Regions from separate parts of the Homo sapiens genome. Here region 2 is linked to region 1. The links come from fine-mapping of genetic effects on gene expression. A gene starts in region 1. The other region holds a variant in brackets. All regions are shown on one strand. Distances are between the middles of the regions. Region 1 holds the start of GYS1 (glycogen synthase 1). Region 2 overlaps GYS1 (glycogen synthase 1).

What was found.
Region 2: its variant is fine-mapped to the expression of GYS1 in whole blood (INTERVAL, PIP 0.98).

What each region holds. Positions count from the first base shown.
Region 1 is chr19:48,991,301-48,996,666 of GRCh38, reverse strand. It overlaps GYS1 (glycogen synthase 1), which reads left to right and starts at 3,358. Exons shown (of 16, transcript NM_002103.5): 1 at 3,358-3,672; 2 at 5,184-5,365. The coding sequence starts at 3,555. RUVBL2 (RuvB like AAA ATPase 2) reads right to left here and starts at 2,780. Exons shown (of 15, transcript NM_006666.3): 1 at 2,744-2,780. The coding sequence starts at 2,755. RefSeq lists enhancers at 2,882-2,971, 3,662-3,801 and a silencer at 3,092-3,451.
Region 2 is chr19:48,967,315-48,972,680 of GRCh38, reverse strand. It overlaps GYS1 (glycogen synthase 1), which reads left to right. Exons shown (of 16, transcript NM_002103.5): 13 at 1,658-1,753; 14 at 1,972-2,135; 15 at 2,826-2,906; 16 at 3,070-4,551. The coding sequence ends at 3,393. Among named protein-coding and RNA genes, the nearest start is that of FTL, 4.7 kb to the right of the region's middle. RefSeq lists a cis regulatory region at 1,333-1,853 and enhancers at 1,830-2,357, 4,123-4,352. The variant T/A (reference allele first, on the strand shown) is at 1,911.

The sequences.
Region 1 (5,366 bases):
GTAATCCCAGGTACTTGGGAGGCTGAGGCAGGAGAATTGCTTGAACCCAGGAGGCGGAGGTTGTAGCGAGCAGAGATCGCGCCACTGCACTCCAGCCTGGGCATCAGAGCAAGACTCTATCACTAACACACACACACACACACACACACACACACACACACACAGATACAAAAATTAGCTGGGCGTGGTGACGCGCACCTGTAGTCCCAGCTACTCAGGAGGCTGAGGCAGGAGGATCATTTGAACATGGGAGAGAGGCAGAGGCTGCAGGGAGCCAAGATCACACCACTGCACTCCAGCCTGGGAGACAGAGTGAGACTCTGTCTTGAAAAAAAGAAAAAACAAAAAAACAATCCTGGATGGTGGATCTTTGCATGTCTGTTACATTATTTTCTGACACTTTGGAATAGTTCATAATTTCTAATAAGGAAAAGGAAGCCTAAGAAGCTAGCATGCTAACCGAGGCCACCCATCCCCAGGTCTCCTTCCTTCCCACAGGTTTGTGTTTTTTTTTTTGAGATAAGATCTCATTTTGTCCCCCAGGCTGGACTGCTGTGGCCTCCACCTCCCAGGCTCAAGCAATCCTCCCACCTTAGTCTCCCAAGTAGTTGGGACTACAGGTGTGTCCCACCACACTTGGCTAATTTTCTTCTCTTTTCTTTTCTTTTTTTTTTTTTTTTGAGACACAGCCTTACTCTGTCACCCAGGCTGGAGTGCAGTGGCGCGATCTCGGCTCACTGCAACCTTCGCCTCCCGGGTTCAAGCAATTCTCCTGCCTCAGCCTCCAGAGTAGTTGGGACTACAGGCATGTGCCACCACGCCCGGCTAATTTTTTTTGTATTTTTAATAAAGACGGGGTTTCACCATATTAGCCAGGCTGCTCTCAAACTCCTGACCTCATGACCTGCCCGCCTCGACCCCCCAAAGTGCTGGGATTACAGGTGTGAGCCACCGCACCCGGCCTAATTTTCTTATTTTTTTGTAGAGACAGGGTTTCGCTATGTTGCCAGGGCTAGTCTTAAATTCCTGGGCTCAAGCAATCCTTCTACCTCGGACTCCCAAAGTGTGGGATTACAGGCGTGAGCCACTGTGCCCAGCCCACAGGTCTTTCTTCTCTTCTTCCCCTAGAGAGGACATGCAGTTATCCAGCCCAGAGGAAGCCTCCTCCCTCTGGAGCCAATCGTTTAGACTTTCTGGCCATCAATGGTCACAAGCTTTCCCTGTCACTGTGTGAACCTTCCCACCTACCGTCTCCTATAGGAAGCTGGAACCCAGGAGCATAGAACATTACCCCCAGACTACAAGCAGAAGACTAGGCATCCCCACCCCACAAAAAAGACATGAATCCAGGAATCCCAAATGTAGCTCTCTCAACATAAACAGGCCCCTTACCAAGGACTGTCTCCTATAAAGACTTTCTCTTTCATCATAAGTCTCTCCAAAACCTTGCTGCCCGCTGTTCCCATGAAAACCAAGGTCATTTCAAAACTCAGCACACACCGTCCCCTCATACTTCCAATACTTTCTCCACGGTAGTTCTGGTCATAGCCTTCCTCTTCTACTTCCCTATCCACCTCCTCCTCCTCCTTGCCCTGGTGACAGCAACAGACTCAAATCTCATCCCCAGCTACCAACAACTTTCTCCCCCTCCCTTCCTCCATCTTGACTGGGCTCATCATGGAAATTGAGGCACCTGTAAGCCCAGCCCAGTCCCTAAGTTCAGGTCACATTACCTTTTTTTTTTTGGAGACAGAGTCTCGCTTTGTCGCCCAGGCTGGAATGCAGTGGCGCGATCTTGGCTCACTGCAACTTCTGCCTCCCAGGTTCAAGCGATTCTCCTGCCTCAGCCTTCTGAGTAGCTGGGATTACAGGCCTGCACCACCACACCTGGCTAATTTTTGTATTTTTAATAGAGACGGGGTTTCGCAATGTTGGCCACGAACTCCTGACCTGAAGTGATCCGCCCGCCTCGGCCTCCCAAAGTGCTGGGATTACAGGCATGAGCCACCACGCCAGGCCAAAATCGCTTCTTTATTCAGGTAATTGAGCAGGTGCCAGGCCAAGTTTCCTGGCCTCTCCTTCATTCACATGTATTCATTCATTCAAATATTCAAGTGATAATTTATTGAGCATTTACACTGAGACGTAGCCCGTGTGAAATACTGGAAATATGAAAATGGCCAAAACGGTAGCATGACAAGATCCCGATTTCTGGGTCCCTAATCCTTCAGTCCTCTCCACTAAGACTCTCTTGTTCCTCGACAATTTCTTCCCACTAAAGGCTCACTAGGCGCCCTCGCGCTCTCAGACACACTGAACAGGTACCTGCCTGTGCTTCCAGCTTGGAACTCAAGTGCCATTGGCACCACTAACAATCCAAGGCTCCCAAATGGCTCGAAGCGCAAGGTCCTACAACCCTCCTCATCACACACTGGCGCCAAGGACTGCGGAACCGGCCGTTGCGCCAAGATGATTTTGAAAGTTGGAGTTCCTATAGCATGATGGGGCCAGACCCGAGATTCTGGGATCCCAGCCCCCTCCCCGCCTCAGATCCAGAAGTCCAGCCCCCATGTCCCCTTCTCCCCCAGATCTGGGTGGCCGAGCTTCCTCCTCTTTCAGACCCAGGAGTCTGAACCCCCAGATCCCCCCTCCCTCAGACCCAGGAGTCAGGGCCTCCAGCATCCTCCTCTCTCAAACTCGAGACTGCTAGCTCGCTCCTCACCCTCCATGCACCCACACTTACAACGGTTGCCATGATGCTCACCAACTGCCAGAGTCCTAGCGGAAACGGAAACGCGCGAGGAGCGAGATGTTCTGGCTCCTCTAGGCTAGCTGGTTCTTCAAAGATCTCGATGGTTCCTCATAAATATGTAAATATTGTGGGGGCGTGGCGGGACTTTATGCCCCGCCCTCCCACCGAGGCTGCGCTGGAAGACGGGCGTCCGGAACTCCTGGGTCCATTCCCAATGTCTCCTGGCTCCTCCTCCTTTTGCTCAGCCCCACCACCGCCCCGCTCAGGCCGATTGCAAAATTCTTAGCTGTTCTTTGAGTAACCACACGTCCTCCACGCTCCTTTCCTCTTTATCCCACCCTCCTCCTCCTCCCCACTTTGAGGCCTCCAGCTCCAGATTGACAGAGCTGAAGGCCACTCGTTTCCGTAAAGCGCAGCGGCAAGCTCCGCCCCCTGGAGGTCTCACGGCCGAGGCGGGGCCGGGACACAGCGACTCCAACCCGTTCCACCAATGAGGACACGCGGAAATCCCCGCCCCCGGGCGTGGGCCAATGGCGCTGGCTGGGGGGGGCGGCCACCGCCTCCTGGCGGCTGCGAGGTTTCACTGCAGGGGCGCCAGTGGGCTCAGTGACGCTGCGGCCTCCTTCTGCCTAGGTCCCAACGCTTCGGGGCAGGGGTGCGGTCTTGCAATAGGAAGCCGAGCGTCTTGCAAGCTTCCCGTCGGGCACCAGCTACTCGGCCCCGCACCCTACCTGGTGCATTCCCTAGACACCTCCGGGGTCCCTACCTGGAGATCCCCGGAGCCCCCCTTCCTGCGCCAGCCATGCCTTTAAACCGCACTTTGTCCATGTCCTCACTGCCAGGACTGGAGGACTGGGAGGATGAATTCGACCTGGAGAACGCAGTGCTCTTCGAAGTGGCCTGGGAGGTGGCTAACAAGGGTGAGCACGCCAGGCGTCGGGGCCCTTGACGAGAAGGACAGTAGTGGATGGGGGCCCGGAACTCTGAGTTGTAGGAGGACGGGGCTACTAGGGGAACCCTTGTGACCTGGGCAAGGAGGCTGTGTCCTTGAGGAGGGGCTGGGAAGCCGGAGGTGGGTGGGAGAGGGATGGTTCGTTTGACTTAAGATGAAAGGAGGCTGGAAGCCCGGGTTCTGGGTCCTAGGGAAGAGGGCGCTAAAATGAGACTCCTAGGTCCTGGAGGCAGGCTTCCGAGAGACTAGATACCTGGGTCCTGAACAGGGAAGGGGATGGGGGGATGGGATTTCTGCGTGCAAACCTGGGAAGCTGCCGGGGTTTCAGACCTATGACCCTAACAGCATGGTCTAGGGGATAAAACTCCAGATTTGAGAGAGAGCTGACTGGGAGATAGGAGGCCTGAGCGGCGGTGGGAGGACCTGAGGATCTGGCTGCTTAAGAATAAAGATGGGACGGGCTGGAGACTGTAATGAATGCCTGGGCTTTGAAGGAGCTGAGGGCCTGAGCTATTAGTTCCTAGGAGTAGAGGAGCCCATGGCCTGGGACACATGCGTACTGGAATAGGGGAAGGCTGGGAAGTCCTAAGTTAGTCAGAGGCTGGGCCCTAGGATGGGAGGGGCTAGGAGCCTGCATTTCTGTGTCTTGGGCTTCAGAAAGCTGAGGTTCTGGCCTTGGAGAAGGCTGGGGCTGAAATCCCCAGGAACAAGCCAATCTCACACCTCAAAGAGCAGGGTCTGGGGGGTTGCTTTGCTGGGTCTTGGAGGAGAAAGGGACTGTGTCTCCCAGGAGGAGAGGGGGCCCGTGAACACCCAGCCGGGTATCGCCAGGGCCTGGGCTCCAGGATGGGAGGAGGCTGGGGGCTGGGGCTCCTGGGTCTGGGATAGGGTCATGGGAGAGGCAGAGCCCTGCATGCTGGTGTCCCTAGTCAGGGAGAGGAAATTGGGAGGCAGGTCAGCAAGGTCCCTGGGGGCAGGGAATGACCATGCAGGCTTCTCTTGGGCAATGGTGAGAAGCTGGATTGGCCATGAGGGGGTCTCCCTCACTGGGTTTTGGAGCCTGGCTGCGATTTAAACCCAGCTCCTGTGAGCTGGGAACTCGGGAACCTGAGTCCGGGTAGTCAGTCCTCAGCTCTGCCATCCTTAGAGCCCCAGTGCCTAATTCCTTCAGACCAAGGGGTCCCGGCACCCAGCCCCTTCTCTCTCAGACCCAGAAGTCTAGCCTGAGCCCCCTCCTCCTTCAGGGTCCTGACCCCAGCCCCCTTCTCCCTTAGACCCAGGAGGACTGCCCTCCAGCCCTCGTGTTCCCCTCATCCAAGCTTCCAACCCCTACTCCAAACTATGGGCTCCCAGTCCCCTCTTCCCCCTGAGCTAGAGGTCTGGGGCCTGAGTGCCCCCTACATCCCCGGCCCACCCCACCCCAGGCCCCAGAACTATGGACCTCGGCCGGGGCCTGCCCTCACACGCTTGGGCCCACAGTGGGTGGCATCTACACGGTGCTGCAGACGAAGGCGAAGGTGACAGGGGACGAATGGGGCGACAACTACTTCCTGGTGGGGCCGTACACGGAGCAGGGCGTGAGGACCCAGGTGGAACTGCTGGAGGCCCCCACCCCGGCCCTGAAGAGGACACTGGATTCCATGAACAGCAAGGGCTGCAAGG
Region 2 (5,366 bases), 24 kb after region 1:
ATGGTGAAACCCTATCTCTACTACAAATACAAAAATTAGCTGGGGGTGGTGGCAGGCACCTGTAATCCCAGCCCTTCGGGAAGTTGAGGTGGGAGAATCGTTTGAACCCCAGAGGCAGAGATTGCAGTGAGCTGAGATCGCGCCACTGCACTCCAGCCTGGGCGACAGAGTCAGACCCTGTCTAAAATAATAATAATAATAATTATAGGTCAGGGGCAGTGGCTCACACCTATAATCCTAGCATCTTGGAAGGCTGAGGTGGGAGGATAGCTTGAGCTCAGGAGTTCAAGACCAGCCTGGACAACATGGTGAGACCCTGTCTCTATAAAAGATTTTTTTTTTTTTTTGAGACAGAGTCTTGCTCTATTGCCAGGCTGGAGTGCAGTGGCACAGTCTTGGCTCACTGCAACCGCCTCCCGGGTTCAAGTGATTCTCCTGCCTCAGCCTCCAGAGTAGCTGGGACTATAGGCGCCTGCCACCACACCCAGCTAATTTTTGTATTTTTATTAGACACAGGGTTTCACCATGTTGGCCAGGATGGTTTTTTTTTTTTTCTCTTCTTGACCTCGTGATCCACCCGCCTTGGCCTCCCAAAGTGCTGGGATTACAGACATGAGCCACCGTGCCCGGCCTTTTTTTTTTTTATTTTTAATTAGCCATGCGTAGTGTTGTGTGCTCGTAGTCCCAGCCTCTTGGGTGGCTGAGGTGGGAGGATTGCTTGAGCCTAGGAGGTCAAGGCTGCAGTGAGCTATGATCAAGCCACTGTCCTCCAGGTTGGGTGATAAAGTGAGACCTTGTCTCGAGAAAAAAAAAAAAAAAGCATTGGGCCAGGCGCAGTGGCTCACACCTATAATTTGACCACTTTGGGAAGCCAAGACGGATGGATCACCTGAGGTCAGGAGTTCAAGACCTGCCTGGCCAACATGGTGAAACCCTGTCTATACTAAAAAATACAATAATTAACTGGGCATGGTGGTGTGTGCCTGTAGTCCCAGCTACTCGGGTGGCTAAGGCACGAAAATCGCTTGAACCCGGGAGGTGAAGGTTGCAGTGAGCCGAGATTGTGCCACTGCACTACAGCTTGGGTGACAGAGTGAGACCCTGTCTCGAAAGAAAAAAAAAAAAGCATAAAAATCCATCAAAAAATTATAATACATTCCTTGAACTATTTCTCAAGGTTGTTAAAGGTATTAAACAAGACGTACTAGATGCTCTGTACACAGGGATACTAATAATGAGAGACCTTATCTTACCCCCCATCAAAATAGACTAAGTCCGTACAAGATACTGGCACAAGAAAGGATCTTACAGGTTGTGACAATTAAGTAGAATGATGGACCTTGGCCCGATCCTACAGGTTGTGAGAGTTAAGTCAAATGGATATTGGGATGCTCAATAAATTAGCATCCTTATCTCCCAACTATGGACTTTCCCGCATCTTGGAGCAAGAGCAAGTAATTCTCTTTTCTGAGCCTCTTAGCGTCCCCTCTGAGAAATAGGGAAATGCACAGCCTGGTTGTGGGGGCTCAGCGACGCTCCGCACAGCGCCTGGCACTTGGTACAGGCGCCAGTAGAGGGCGGTGTTGAGGCGTCTATTGCGATTAAGACGGTAGGCGATGAGGGAAGCTAAGTGGGTCTCTCTCCTGCCTTCCCGCAGCTGAGTGCACGGTTATGGGAATCCCCAGTATCTCCACCAATCTCTCCGGCTTCGGCTGCTTCATGGAGGAACACATCGCAGACCCCTCAGCTTACGGTCAGCGCCCAGGCCCCTGAGGATTCTGGAAGGGGGCTTGAGAACAGTGACTCCTGGATCCTGGGAAGGAGGAGCTTGCACCCTTGGAGACCAGGGGCACCAGGAAATGGGGGGGCTCTCGGGCCGCTGGGAGAGGAGGGGTCCTGGTGCCACAGAG[T/A]CCTGGAGACCATGAAGATCTCCCCAGGATGTTTTCTGAACCTGGGTCCTGGCCTCCACAGGTATCTACATTCTTGACCGGCGGTTCCGCAGCCTGGATGATTCCTGCTCGCAGCTCACCTCCTTCCTCTACAGTTTCTGTCAGCAGAGCCGGCGGCAGCGTATCATCCAGCGGAACCGCACGGAGCGCCTCTCCGACCTTCTGGACTGGAAATACCTAGGCCGGGTAGGACCCCCACTTTCCTATCCTCTCCTGGCAAATCAGCAGCTCCTGGCTAGGGGTCTTTGGTGCAGGGTGCAGGGTCTCATCCTACTTGTAACAGTTGCTGTCCCTTTAAGCAATGAACCAGGCCGATCGCGATGGTGGCTCATGGTTGTAATCCCAGCACTTTGGGAGGCCTAACAGGAAGGATCGCATGAGCTCAGGAGTTAAGAGACCAGCCTGGGCAACATTTTATTTTTACTAAAAATAAAAAAAAATCAGCCGAGCGTGATGGTGCGTGCCTGTAGTCCCAGCTACTGGGGAGGCTGAGGTGGTAGGGTCGCTTGAGCCCCGGAGGTTGAGGCTGCAGTGAGCCTTGTTCAAACCCACTGCACTCCATCCTAGAGTAACAGAACAAGACCGTGTTTAAAAAGAAAAAAAGAACATTGGTCAGGCGTTCTCATTTGCATAAGGGTGTGGCCAAAGAGGAGACTCACTTGAGAATTCGGCCCCTGTTTGAGGGGTATGGCTCAGAAACTGTCCATTCACAGGTCTGCTTATCTACATAAGGGGTGGAGTCAGATAGATGGATTATTTGTATGGGGTGCAGCAGTGTGCTCATCTGCATAAAGGGTGTGGCCAAGACCCCCATCATCTGCCTGGGGGTGGGGCCTGGCTCTCACATCCTCTGCCCCCTCTCCTCCTTTCCCCTAGTACTATATGTCTGCGCGCCACATGGCGCTGTCCAAGGCCTTTCCAGAGCACTTCACCTACGAGCCCAACGAGGCGGATGCGGTGAGTGGACCCTGGATTTCTGCTTAGCCAGGAGCTAAAGGGCTGGGCTTCGGTGGGGTGGGGGTCCCTCCTGGAGTGGGAAGGCCTAGAGGTGGCTGGATGCCTGGGTGGGACTGTGAGGTCCTCAGCTCACCCTGGTTTGCACCCACATCGCCGTATGCAGGCCCAGGGGTACCGCTACCCACGGCCAGCCTCGGTGCCACCGTCGCCCTCGCTGTCACGACACTCCAGCCCGCACCAGAGTGAGGACGAGGAGGATCCCCGGAACGGGCCGCTGGAGGAAGACGGCGAGCGCTACGATGAGGACGAGGAGGCCGCCAAGGACCGGCGCAACATCCGTGCACCAGAGTGGCCGCGCCGAGCGTCCTGCACCTCCTCCACCAGCGGCAGCAAGCGCAACTCTGTGGACACGGCCACCTCCAGCTCACTCAGCACCCCGAGCGAGCCCCTCAGCCCCACCAGCTCCCTGGGCGAGGAGCGTAACTAAGTCCGCCCCACCACACTCCCCGCCTGTCCTGCCTCTCTGCTCCAGAGAGAGGATGCAGAGGGGTGCTGCTCCTAAACCCCCGCTCCAGATCTGCACTGGGTGTGGCCCCGCAGTGCCCCCACCCAGTCCGCCAAACACTCCACCCCCTCCAGCTCCAGTTTCCAAGTTCCTGCACTCCAGAATCCACAAAGCCGTGCCTTTCTCTGGCTCCAGAATATGCATAATCAGCGCCCTGGAGTCCCCTGGGCCTGGACCGCTTCCCAGAGGCCAGGAATCTGCCATTACTCTGCGGTGGTGCCAGAGGTTTTAGGAAACCTGGCATGGTGCTTTCAGGTCTGGGGCTTTTAGAGCCCCCCGTGTGGCTTACAAATTCTACAGCATACAGAGCAGGCCACGCTCAGGCCCGGCATGCGGGCCACCAAGTTCTGGAAACCACGTGGTGTCCCTGCGAATGGGGCGATCAAGTCCAGAGCCGGGGCACTTTCAGAGTTTGAAGGTAACTGAGAGCAGATGGTCCTCCATTTCAACTCCAGAAGTGGGGCTCTGGGAGGGATGTTCTAGCCCTCCCTGGCATGTCAGAGCCAGGCTCTGCCTGGAGGATCCCTCCATCCGGCTCCTGTCATCCCCTACACTTTGGCCAAGCAAGAGGTGGTAGAACCACTTGGCTGCTCATTCCTTCTGGAGGACACACAGTCTCAGTCCAGATGCCTTCCTGTCTTTCTGGCCCTTTCTGGACCAGATCCTACTCTTCCTTTCTAAATCTGAGATCTCCCTCCAGGGAATCCGCCTGCAGAGGACAGAGCTGGCTGTCTTCCCCCACCCCTAACCTGGCTTATTCCCAACTGCTCTGCCCACTGTGAAACCACTAGGTTCTAGGTCCTGGCTTCTAGATCTGGAACCTTACCACGTTACTGCATACTGATCCCTTTCCCATGATCCAGAACTGAGGTCACTGGGTTCTAGAACCCCCACATTTACCTCGAGGCTCTTCCATCCCCAAACTGTGCCCTGCCTTCAGCTTTGGTGAAAGGGAGGGCCCCTCATGTGTGCTGTGCTGTGTCTGCACCGCTTGGTTTGCAGTTGAGAGGGGAGGGCAGGAGGGGTGTGATTGGAGTGTGTCCGGAGATGAGATGAAAAAAATACATCTATATTTAAGAATCCCAGGTGTGGTCAGACATGACACTTGGTGGGCCTGGCTGTGACGTCCCCCCAGTACCACCCCTTCCCTGGTCTGAGCTCATCCTCTTATTCTAGAGAGACTTGGGGGGTCTCCCTATGTTGCTTAGGCTGGTCTCAACCTCCTGGGCTCAAGTGATCGTCCTGCCTTGGCCTCCCAAAGTGCTGGGATTACAGGCTTGAACCACCCTGCCCCAGACCCAGGGGAAGGAGAAGGGGAAGAGTCAGAGCTGACACAGCAGTTTTGCAGCTTGGACACAGCAAGTGCTTTTTAAGGCCTGTTTTAAGCTTCTTCAGTTCCCATTTGGAGAATCCGGCCCAAGGTTTCACATCCCATTTCTGTGATGAACCCTAAACCCCTTGTCCAGCATTGCTTGGGCATCACGTGTTCCTGGCTGCTCAGCTCCACTGGCCAGTTCCTCTCAGTGTGCGCCTCACATTGGGATCACTCAAGCTCGGGCCATAATCTCTTAAACTCTGGAGCAAAGACCTCAGTGAGCCCCCCGGTTGCCATGCAAGTTGCATAGCAATAGCGTCAATGTGCCCATATAAAGGGCCTAATAATTCCAACTGCCTCCCAGAATTGAGGCTTTTTTCTTTTTTGAGACAGAGTCTTACTCTGTTGCCCAAGCTGGAGCACAGTGGCGCCATCTCAGCTCACCGCAACTTCCGTGAGGCAGACATGTTTTTTGTTTGAGATGGGAGTTCCACTCTTTTTGCCCAGGCTGGAGTGCAATGACGCCATCTCAGCTCACTGCAACCTCCGCCTCCCAGATTCAAGCGATTCTCCTACCTCA